Regions from separate parts of the Homo sapiens genome. Here region 2 is linked to region 1. Evidence: fine-mapped QTL for protein levels in blood plasma. Region 1 holds a variant in brackets. A gene starts in the other region. All regions are shown on their reverse strands.

Region 1 (4,401 bases):
GGAGTGAAAATGCTGTGTCTATGGGGCTCCTGGGCAGCCCAGTCCTGGCATGGCGTCCCAGTAACAGTGGTCGCCCTCTTGCCTCGGTATCCTTTCCCATTCCCAAACATACAGTCTGTACAGGGAAAAAATGGATGATTATGAAGAGCCACAGAGACCCAGGATGATATGGAATCAATACAGTCATGTCAGGTTTCTCTAGGATGACAGAATCAGGGGCCACATTCCTCAGAAACTGCAATGCTGAAGACTGCAATGAACGCTGCCTACCTTAAGAAATTACTGGAGATGCTTACTGGCTTGGAAAGAATCACACATATGGCAGCATGATAGAATACGAATTTGGACTGGGATACTGAGATAACCCATTTTAGAACAAGGTGAGTGGTTAAGTTGAGCACCTTGGAGGGTTTGCACCTGTCCTAAAGGCACAGCCCACTCACGTTGTGCCAAAAGTCACACCTCTGCCTCCTTGAGAGAGTGCACTGAGGCTTCCTTCCACATGGCAGACCCTCTAAAAACACTTGATTTCTCGTGTAGCATGGAAGGTTTCTGCATCAGTGAGATTTTCCATGGCTTTTCATCCCAGCGTCCAAGTGTGTAGATGTCCAGCCACAGATTTCTTACCTTCTTCGGAAGGAGTCTCTACATCTGGAAGCAGGACAACAGGCGGAGGTGCTACAACACTCGCTTCTGTTCCTGAGCATTTTTTCAGGTTGCAGTACTCCCACCTGACGCTGGGGTCTGTGGTAAAACACCAGGGGCCTTTATCGGCATCTGGATTCCTGCAGTAGTTCATTGTCAGGCCACTGGAAATTCCAAAACAATACAGGTCACAAGAGGTGGGAGAATATTCAGGGGCACCCAGCACCCTCTACATTTTGTTCTAACAAAGTGTTAACAAGTGGCTTTGAAATATTCCCATTATAGGTACAATAATGTTGTAACAAACAAAAATGGTCCTCAACTTCTAAACAACTGTGTACATTTCAAAGACAGATTTTAATTTTTCTTTAAAAAATCAAAAGTAGTATATGCTCCATATAAAAACTCAGATCATACATAAACATGTAAATAAAAGGATCAGAATATCCCCCTCCCACCTTCTGCCAAATACATTTCTCAGGAATAACAGGTACAGATTTTAAAGTGCATATTTTATATTTTTATGCACATAAAAGTATATCTCTAACTGTCTAGCTCTCTGTATTTCTCTCTATAGGACTGTATTGTGAAATGTGCATTGGAACTAAAATACATTTCTCCAAGGAGAAAATGACATCCAAGATGGTATCATTCCCAGGCCAGTCACCTTACTCTAAGTACTCACAGTGTAACTAAAGGGATCTACTTTTACTATGAAAAACAACCACGAAAAATAGTGTTACTGTCAATACCGTATCAGGTGTGTCAAGTGGGTTTGTTTCTGCAAGACGTATCAAAGCCACCCTGGGAAACTAGCTCCCAGGCAGGATGCCATTTCTCTAGGATGGGTTCCTGGGCAGGACATCCTCTCCTGCTCTCAATCCATCCTCTGCTGGCCACTGCCACTCCAGGTCTGAGGGAATGGGGGATGAGTTGGAAGAACAGTGGGACTCAAGATATAAAGGGAGACTATGGGATCTGAAGAGGTCGGGCAGCTACGGAGGAGTCCGAAAACAACGGAGTAATAGTCAAAGCAGGCGAGGACCCCGGGCTGGGGGGGATCTTGGAGAATGTGCTCCCCCTCATGCCTCCCAAGAATGTTGCTCCAACCTCTCAGAATCCTCACATTCATGACCTGTGGCTGTCTGAGAAAACGGGAAATGTATTATGTACCATGGGAATGCAACATTGTCTCTCTAGCGACTCTACACATGTGATCTAATCTCAAGCCCAGACACCCCATTTGAGGAAGTTCATAGTCTAAGCAACTGGATGTGTTAAAAGGCTGAGCATTTGAAACAGATTTCCACTCTCTTCAGTTGAGGTATACTTTTACATAGTGTGAAATGCACAGATCTTAAATGTTGTTTGGTGAGTTTTGATGATCACCTATACTTGTGTAAACCACACTCCCATATGATACAGAACACTTCCATTACTCTAGAAACACCCTGTGTCACTGCTCATTCAATTCCTGCTACCCTCTTCCCACTGCCAGAGGGAAATACTATTGGTTTCCTTCACTAAAGATTAGTTTTACCTCTCCTCAAACCTGATATAAATGGGCTCATACAGAATGTACACTTATGTATCTGCCTCCTTTCCTTAATATATTTTTGAGTTCCATCCATCCTATTTGAGAGGATCAGTCACTTCTTCATTTTAATTGCTTAATAATATTCCATTATATGAATAGATCACAAATTATCGATTCATTTTCTCATTGATTGACCTTGTAGTTGTTTACAGTTTGGGGTTATAATAACTAGAGCTGCTGTGAATATTCTTGTAGATCTCTTTGTGGACTTCTGTTTTCATTTCCATGGGGTAAATATTCAGGAATAGAATTGCAGTTTTTTGGGGTAGACTCATAGTTATTTAACTTTATGGAAAACCAGCATACTGTACTTTAACCAGCGTATGCGAGAGCTGCACATCCT[C/T]GCTCCACATCAGTGACAGCACTTATTGTTGTGTCTTCTTAATGATACCCATGCCCATTAAGTGTTGGTGACATCTTGTGATGGTTATAATTCTTATATCTTTGATGGCTAAAATGTTGAGCATTTTTTCAGGTGCTTATTGTCCATCTGTCCATCGTTCCCTGAGAAATTTCCTATTCAATTCTGTTGCCCATTTTAATTAGGTTGTTTGTCCTCTGATTAGTGAGTGGGAGAAACGTTTATACTCTAGATACAAACCATTTGTCAGATATATGGATGGAGAGAATTTTTATTCCAGTCTGTTACTTACCTACTGATTTCTTAACAATGACTTTTGATGAACATAATTTTCATTTTATGAAAGCCCAAATTATAATTTATTTTCTTTTAAAGCTAGTGTTTTCTGGGTCCTGCCTGAAAAAAATTTTGCCTTCCTCAAGTTTGTGAAAATATTATATATTTTCCTGGAATTGTTTTATTTCAGCTTAAGTTTTAGCTCTTACATTTAGATCTAGGAGCTTTTGCACATTAATTTGGGATGGAAAGTAGAAGTCAAAATTTGTTTTTATTTTTGTTTTCTAGATGGATATCCGATTGTTTCACAATGATTTTGGAAAAGATGTTTTTCCCTGTTGAATTTCCTTGTCACCTACCTAGAAACTAAATTGATCATGTATATGTGGATCTGTTTCTGGACCATCCATTTCTATATCTGTATACTTTTTTTTCCCAATACCACATATCTTGTTTACTGTACCTTTATAGGTCTTTACCTTTGGGTAAGTAAGTCCTCCAACTTTTTTCTTCTCTTTAAATATTGTCCTTGTGATTCTAGCATATACATTTTTTCACATTTTTTAAAAAAAACGACTGCTGAGATTCTGGTTGGGTATGGGCTGAATCCAAAGATCAATTTGGTGAGAAGTGATATTGACTCTTAATATATAAGCGTGATATATCTTTATTTAGATCTTTTGATTCCTTCCTTAACAATGTTTTTTAGTATGCAGTACATAATTCTTGTGCATATTGTGTTAAATGTATCACTAAATATCTTGTGGTTTTGATACTATTGTCAGTGGTATTGCTCTGACATTTTTATTTTCCAGTTGATCATTGGCAGTGTATAAAAATACAACTACTTTTATTATATTGATCATGTATATACTTATGTGTTCTCCAATCTTGCAAAATTTAATTATTAATCTTTAGGACTTTCTGCATCCGTTAATTAAGCTTTCTGTGAATACAGGCAGTTTTAATTCTTCCTCTCCAAACTTTAGGCCCTTTCTTTCTTTCCTTCCTTTTTTTCCTCTCTTTTTGTTTTGTTTTCAGGTCTTATGGCAATGGTTGTGACCAATGTAGTAAAATGCTGATTAGAAGTACTGAGAGCAAACATATTTTTCTTATTCCCAATCTTAGAGAGAAAACATTAATCTTTCACCATTAAGTTGATGTTATCTGGAGGTCTTTTGTAGATGCCTTTGATCAAGTTAAAGAAGTTCCAGTCTATTCATAGTTTGCTAAGACATTTTATCATGGATAAGTGTTAAATTTTGTCACATTTTCTTCTGCATCTATTGACATAATCATATGATTTATCACTTTTATTCTGTTAACATGTTGGATTACATGGATTGTTTTGTAAATGTTAAGCCAGCCTTGCATTCTTGAAGAGAAGCTTCACTTGTTTGGGATATTCATCATGTTAATGATTAAAATTTTGTTACATCTTTTTATATTTATGTTCACAATACATAATGTGCTATAGTTTCTCACAATATCCTTGTCTACTTTTTTACAACTAGGGTTTTTT
Region 2 (4,358 bases), not on the chromosome of region 1:
AATCCTGAGTTACCTCACTTAGAATAATGGCCTCCAGTCCATCCAAGTTGCTACAAAAGACATTATTTCGTTCCTTTTTATGGCTGACTAGTATTCCACAGTGTATATATACCACATTTTCTTTATCCACTCATTGGTTGATGGGCATTTAGGTTGGTTCCATATCTTTGCAATTGCAAATTGTGCTGCTATAAACATGTGTGTGCATGTGTGTTTTTCATATTATGACTTATTTTCCTTTGGGTAGGTACTCAGTAGTGAGACTGCTGGATCAAATGGTAGTTTACTTTCAGCTTTTTAAGAAATCTCCAGCTGGGCACAGTGGCTCACACCTGTAACCCCAGCACTTTGGGAGGCTGAGGCGGGTGGATCACGAGGTCAAGAGATTGAGACCATCCTGGCCAACATGATGAAACCTCATCTCTACTAAAAATACAAAAATTAGCTGGGCATGGTGGTGTGCACCTGTAGTCCCAGCTACTTGAGAGGCTGAGGCAGAAGAATCACTTGAACCCGGGAGGCAGAGGTTGCAGTGAGCCGAGATCATACCACTGCACTCCAGCCTGAGCAAGAGAGATACTCCATCTCAAAACAAAACAAAACAAACAAACAAACAAACAAAAAAAAGGTAAAAAAAAAAAAAACAAAGAAACAAAATAATTCCGTAGCAAAGTCACTGAAACATGAAGTAGCATGATTAAAAATGGAAGAAAACCCAGAAGGTGCATAACGGGATAAAAACAACAGTAAATATTGATTTGTGTATCATAAAGGTTAAGAGGTATTTGTGAAAATGGTTAGCTCTGGAGTATTTTCACACATAAAGAAATGACTGCATTTGTTACTGGGCTTATAACATTCAACATGAGGCTGTGGTAGCGGGCCTCCAAGATGGCACCTGATGACCCCACCTTATGTCAGCTCCACCTCCCACATCTTACCAGACTGGCTCTGTGTAACCAATGGCAGAAGAGATGATATGTTTCAAGATAAGGTTATAAAAAGACACTGCTGCTCCCACCTCAGTCATTCCCTGGTCCACTGTCTCAATTTCTCTATTCACTCATTCTGCAGGAACAAAGAGCTGGCAGGAAAAGCCCAGCCTTCTGATAAGGTTCTGAGGATTTTGTCCAAAGGCCTAAGAGGAGCTGAGGACTCTTGCTAACAGCCACATGAGCTTGAAATTGAATCCTTTAAACTTGGGAAACCTTCAGAAGATTGCAGCCATATGCAACAGCTTGTCTGCGTCCTCATGAGACACTCTGAGCTGGAACCACCCAGATAAGCTGCTCCCTCCTGGTCCACAGAAACTGTTTAAGATAAGAAAAATTCGTATTTTTAAGATGCTAAGTTTGAGGGTTATATTTTACATGGCAATAGATATCTAATACAGAGTTGAGGGAAGTTCCATGTGCTATTTTGCAAATTTGATGAAAAAAACACATCTCTACATATACATGTAATTTGTAGTGTTTATTCTAAGAATTAGCAGATACTTGCCACCTTCACTTTTCAAGCCACTTTTCAAAAACTTTGTTTTACTACTTAATAGATGATTCTGATCTCCCTTTTAACTGACCCAAAATTCTTCACAATCTGTGCGCTTCTTACTTATCTCATATTCTACTCTCCCCCATCCTTTTTTTTTTCCTTTACTCCATCCATGCTGACGTCTTTTATGTTTCTGGAACGTGCCAAGCAAACTTCCATCTCAAGGCCTTTGTGTTGACAGTTCTTTCTGTCTTAGCTTCTCTTTCCCTGGATATCTGAATATCCATGTGGCTCACTTTCTTCTCCTTCAAATCTTTGCTCAAAACTCTCCTCATCAGTGAGGACAGTATTGAACAGCTTATTTAAAATAGCAGTACCACCCCTCACACTGATGATGCTCCTTATCTGGATTTATTGTCCTTTAACACATGTACAAGTTGAGCATCTCTAATCCAAACACCCAAAATACTCCAAAATCTAAAACTTATTGAGTACTGACATCATGCCACACCTAGAAAATTTCACACCTGACTTCATGTGGTGGGTCATAGTCAAAATGCATTCAAAGCCTTGTTTTATGCATAAAATTACCTAAAATAGTCAGTAAGATTACCTTCAGTCAGTAGCATAAGTGAAACACAAATGAATTTTGTGTTTAGACTTGGGTCTCATCCCCAAGAGATCTCATTATGTATATGCAAATATTCCAAAATCTGGGGGGAAAAAATCTGAAATCTGAAACACTTCCAGACCCAGGCATTGTGGATAAGGGATCCTCAACCTGTAGTAATTTTATTGCGTCTCTCCCCCTCACTGAAATACCAGCTTCAACAGGGTGGGGCTTTTCATCTCTTCAGTCACTTATGCACTTCCATCCATGATGTGTCCTGATGACCTAGAACAATGCCTGACACTTAGGAAGTACTCAATAAAATATTTGTTGATGTAAATCAATTGAAATATCAGTCCCATAGGGATGGGGATTTTCATCCCTTTAGTCACTTATCCACTTACTTGATATATCCTCATTACCTAGAAGAATGCCTGACACTTAGCAGGTACTCAATAAATACTTGATGTGAGCTCCTGAAATGAGTTTAGTTCAAGGGGCTTTTTTACAATACCAATTATCCTAAAGTAAAGATGACTGCCTATATTTAAATTTCCTGACTCCGTAGGTTGTCAATAAACAGGGACTATGATCTGAAAGCAAAGTTCAGTTTAAAAAGAAAAGTATGTGCTTGTATGAGTCACAAAAAAGGGCTAAGTACAAAAGAACTGCTGAGGTAAACATGAACATCGTTCTGTGAACTTATGATTTAAATAAAATCTTTATCACCACACTTGCCAAGAGCAATATATCTTATCATGAACGTACATAAAAAACTCTTGTGTCTTTCCTCTTAATACTCGGAACATTATTTTTATTTTTATTACGAAGTTTGCATTGGAGAATATTGTAACTCACTGCACCTAGGTAAAAACTAAAGACATAAATCTGATGTTAGTTCTAAAAATCTACAAGGGTAATGATATGAATTTCACAGACATGGAAGCCTTGTTCAGAATAGATGATAATAGAAAGGCTCGGTAGAGCCAGGTTCATGAGTGTGTGACCTGTGCAGAAGTGGGTGCTTAGAAGGCCCATGGCTTGGGTTAATGCTCTGCTGTTGCCGTCTTGAAATTCTTCACAATTTATGAACAAGGGAACTTCATTTTCAGTTTACACGGAACCCTGCAAATTATGTACTTGGCTCTATCTTCCTTTGCAAACGGAGAAACAGGCTTCAAGAGTTTTGAAACTGCCATAATAGATCCAAAAACTGTGTATGCTTTTCACATCTGTACAATTTTGTTACGTATTTATAAACATCTGCTGAATGGATGACTCTATGTATTGGCCCACATCACTTCAGAACTAGGTCTTGAACTTAGGGATTGTGGCAAGAAGGAAAAAGGCAGCTTCCGGTGGCTCACAGGGCAGGCCAGGTGGCTCACACCTGTGAGCATTTTGGGAGGCCAAGGCGGGTGGATCACTAGAGTCCAGGAGTTCGAGACCGGCCTGGGCAATATGGCAAGATCCTATCTCTACTAAAAATACAAAAATAGCCTGGGGTGGTGGCACGCGCCTGTAGTCCCAGGTACTCCGGAGGCTGAGGCAGGAGGCACTTGAACCTGAAGGTCGAGGCTGCAGTGAGACCTGATCTCAACACACACAAAAGAATGACTCTCAGGCTTCTTTTTTTCTAATGGATGGAAGTGAAACCTCGAAAGCACATGGTCAAGTGCCTGACTCTTCCAAAACAAAAACAAAAACAAAAAAACTAGCCTCAGCAAGGAGGTCCGTAGCCTCCAGCTGACCGGATTTTCAGTCACAGAACACCGGGGACCTAAAAAAGGGTCAATCTCAGCATCGTGCACTCAACCCAGCTCCTTCCGCCCCTCGAGCCCAGGCTGGGAGGAGCCGAGGAACCGAAAGAGAAAACAGGCCGCGCGGGCGGCAGAGGAGCCGGGCGCCGCAATGGACGTGCGGGCGCTGCCGTGGCTGCCGTGGCTGCTGTGGCTGCTGTGCCGGGGCGGCGGCGATGCGGACTCCCGCGCCCCCTTCACCCCGACCTGGCCGCGGAGCCGCGAGCGTGAAGCCGCCGCCTTCCGGGTACCGAGCGCGCGCCTCCCCGGGATCTGTCCCTGCTCCCTCACTTCCTGTCCCGGGTCTGGGCTGCGGAAGAGGGCCCCCGAGAGCTGACCCTGCTCGTGGGCACCCGTGGCTCTGCGATGCGTCTGGGGCCCTGAGCTGCGGGTGCAAAAGCCAGCTTCTCTCTCCCCTCTCCTTGTGCCATGGTGTCACTCCCCCATGCCTTTGCTAA

Alleles and levels. Positions count from the first base shown, and alleles are read on the strand shown. Strength reflects both the effect of a copy and how common the allele is.
In carriers of allele C in region 1, the plasma level of the protein whose gene starts at base 3,994 in region 2 tends to be lower than with T alone (weak association).

The links. PIP is the posterior inclusion probability: the model's chance that the variant is causal. The UK Biobank Pharma Proteomics Project read protein levels with antibody pairs (Olink). The fine-mapping took linkage between variants from a reference panel, not from the people measured, so its PIPs are less certain.
Region 2: CTSO starts here. The variant in region 1 is fine-mapped to the plasma level of the CTSO protein (UK Biobank, PIP above 0.99).

Annotation. Positions count from the first base shown.
Region 1 is chr6:160,727,459-160,731,859 of GRCh38, reverse strand. It overlaps PLG (plasminogen), which reads right to left. Exons shown (of 19, transcript NM_000301.5): 11 at 628-809; 12 at 1-115. Among named protein-coding and RNA genes, the nearest start is that of PLG, 27 kb to the right of the region's middle. The variant C/T (reference allele first, on the strand shown) is at 2,586.
Region 2 is chr4:155,953,502-155,957,859 of GRCh38, reverse strand. It overlaps CTSO (cathepsin O), which reads left to right and starts at 3,994. Exons shown (of 8, transcript NM_001334.3): 1 at 3,994-4,147. The coding sequence starts at 4,013. RefSeq lists an enhancer at 2,589-2,883.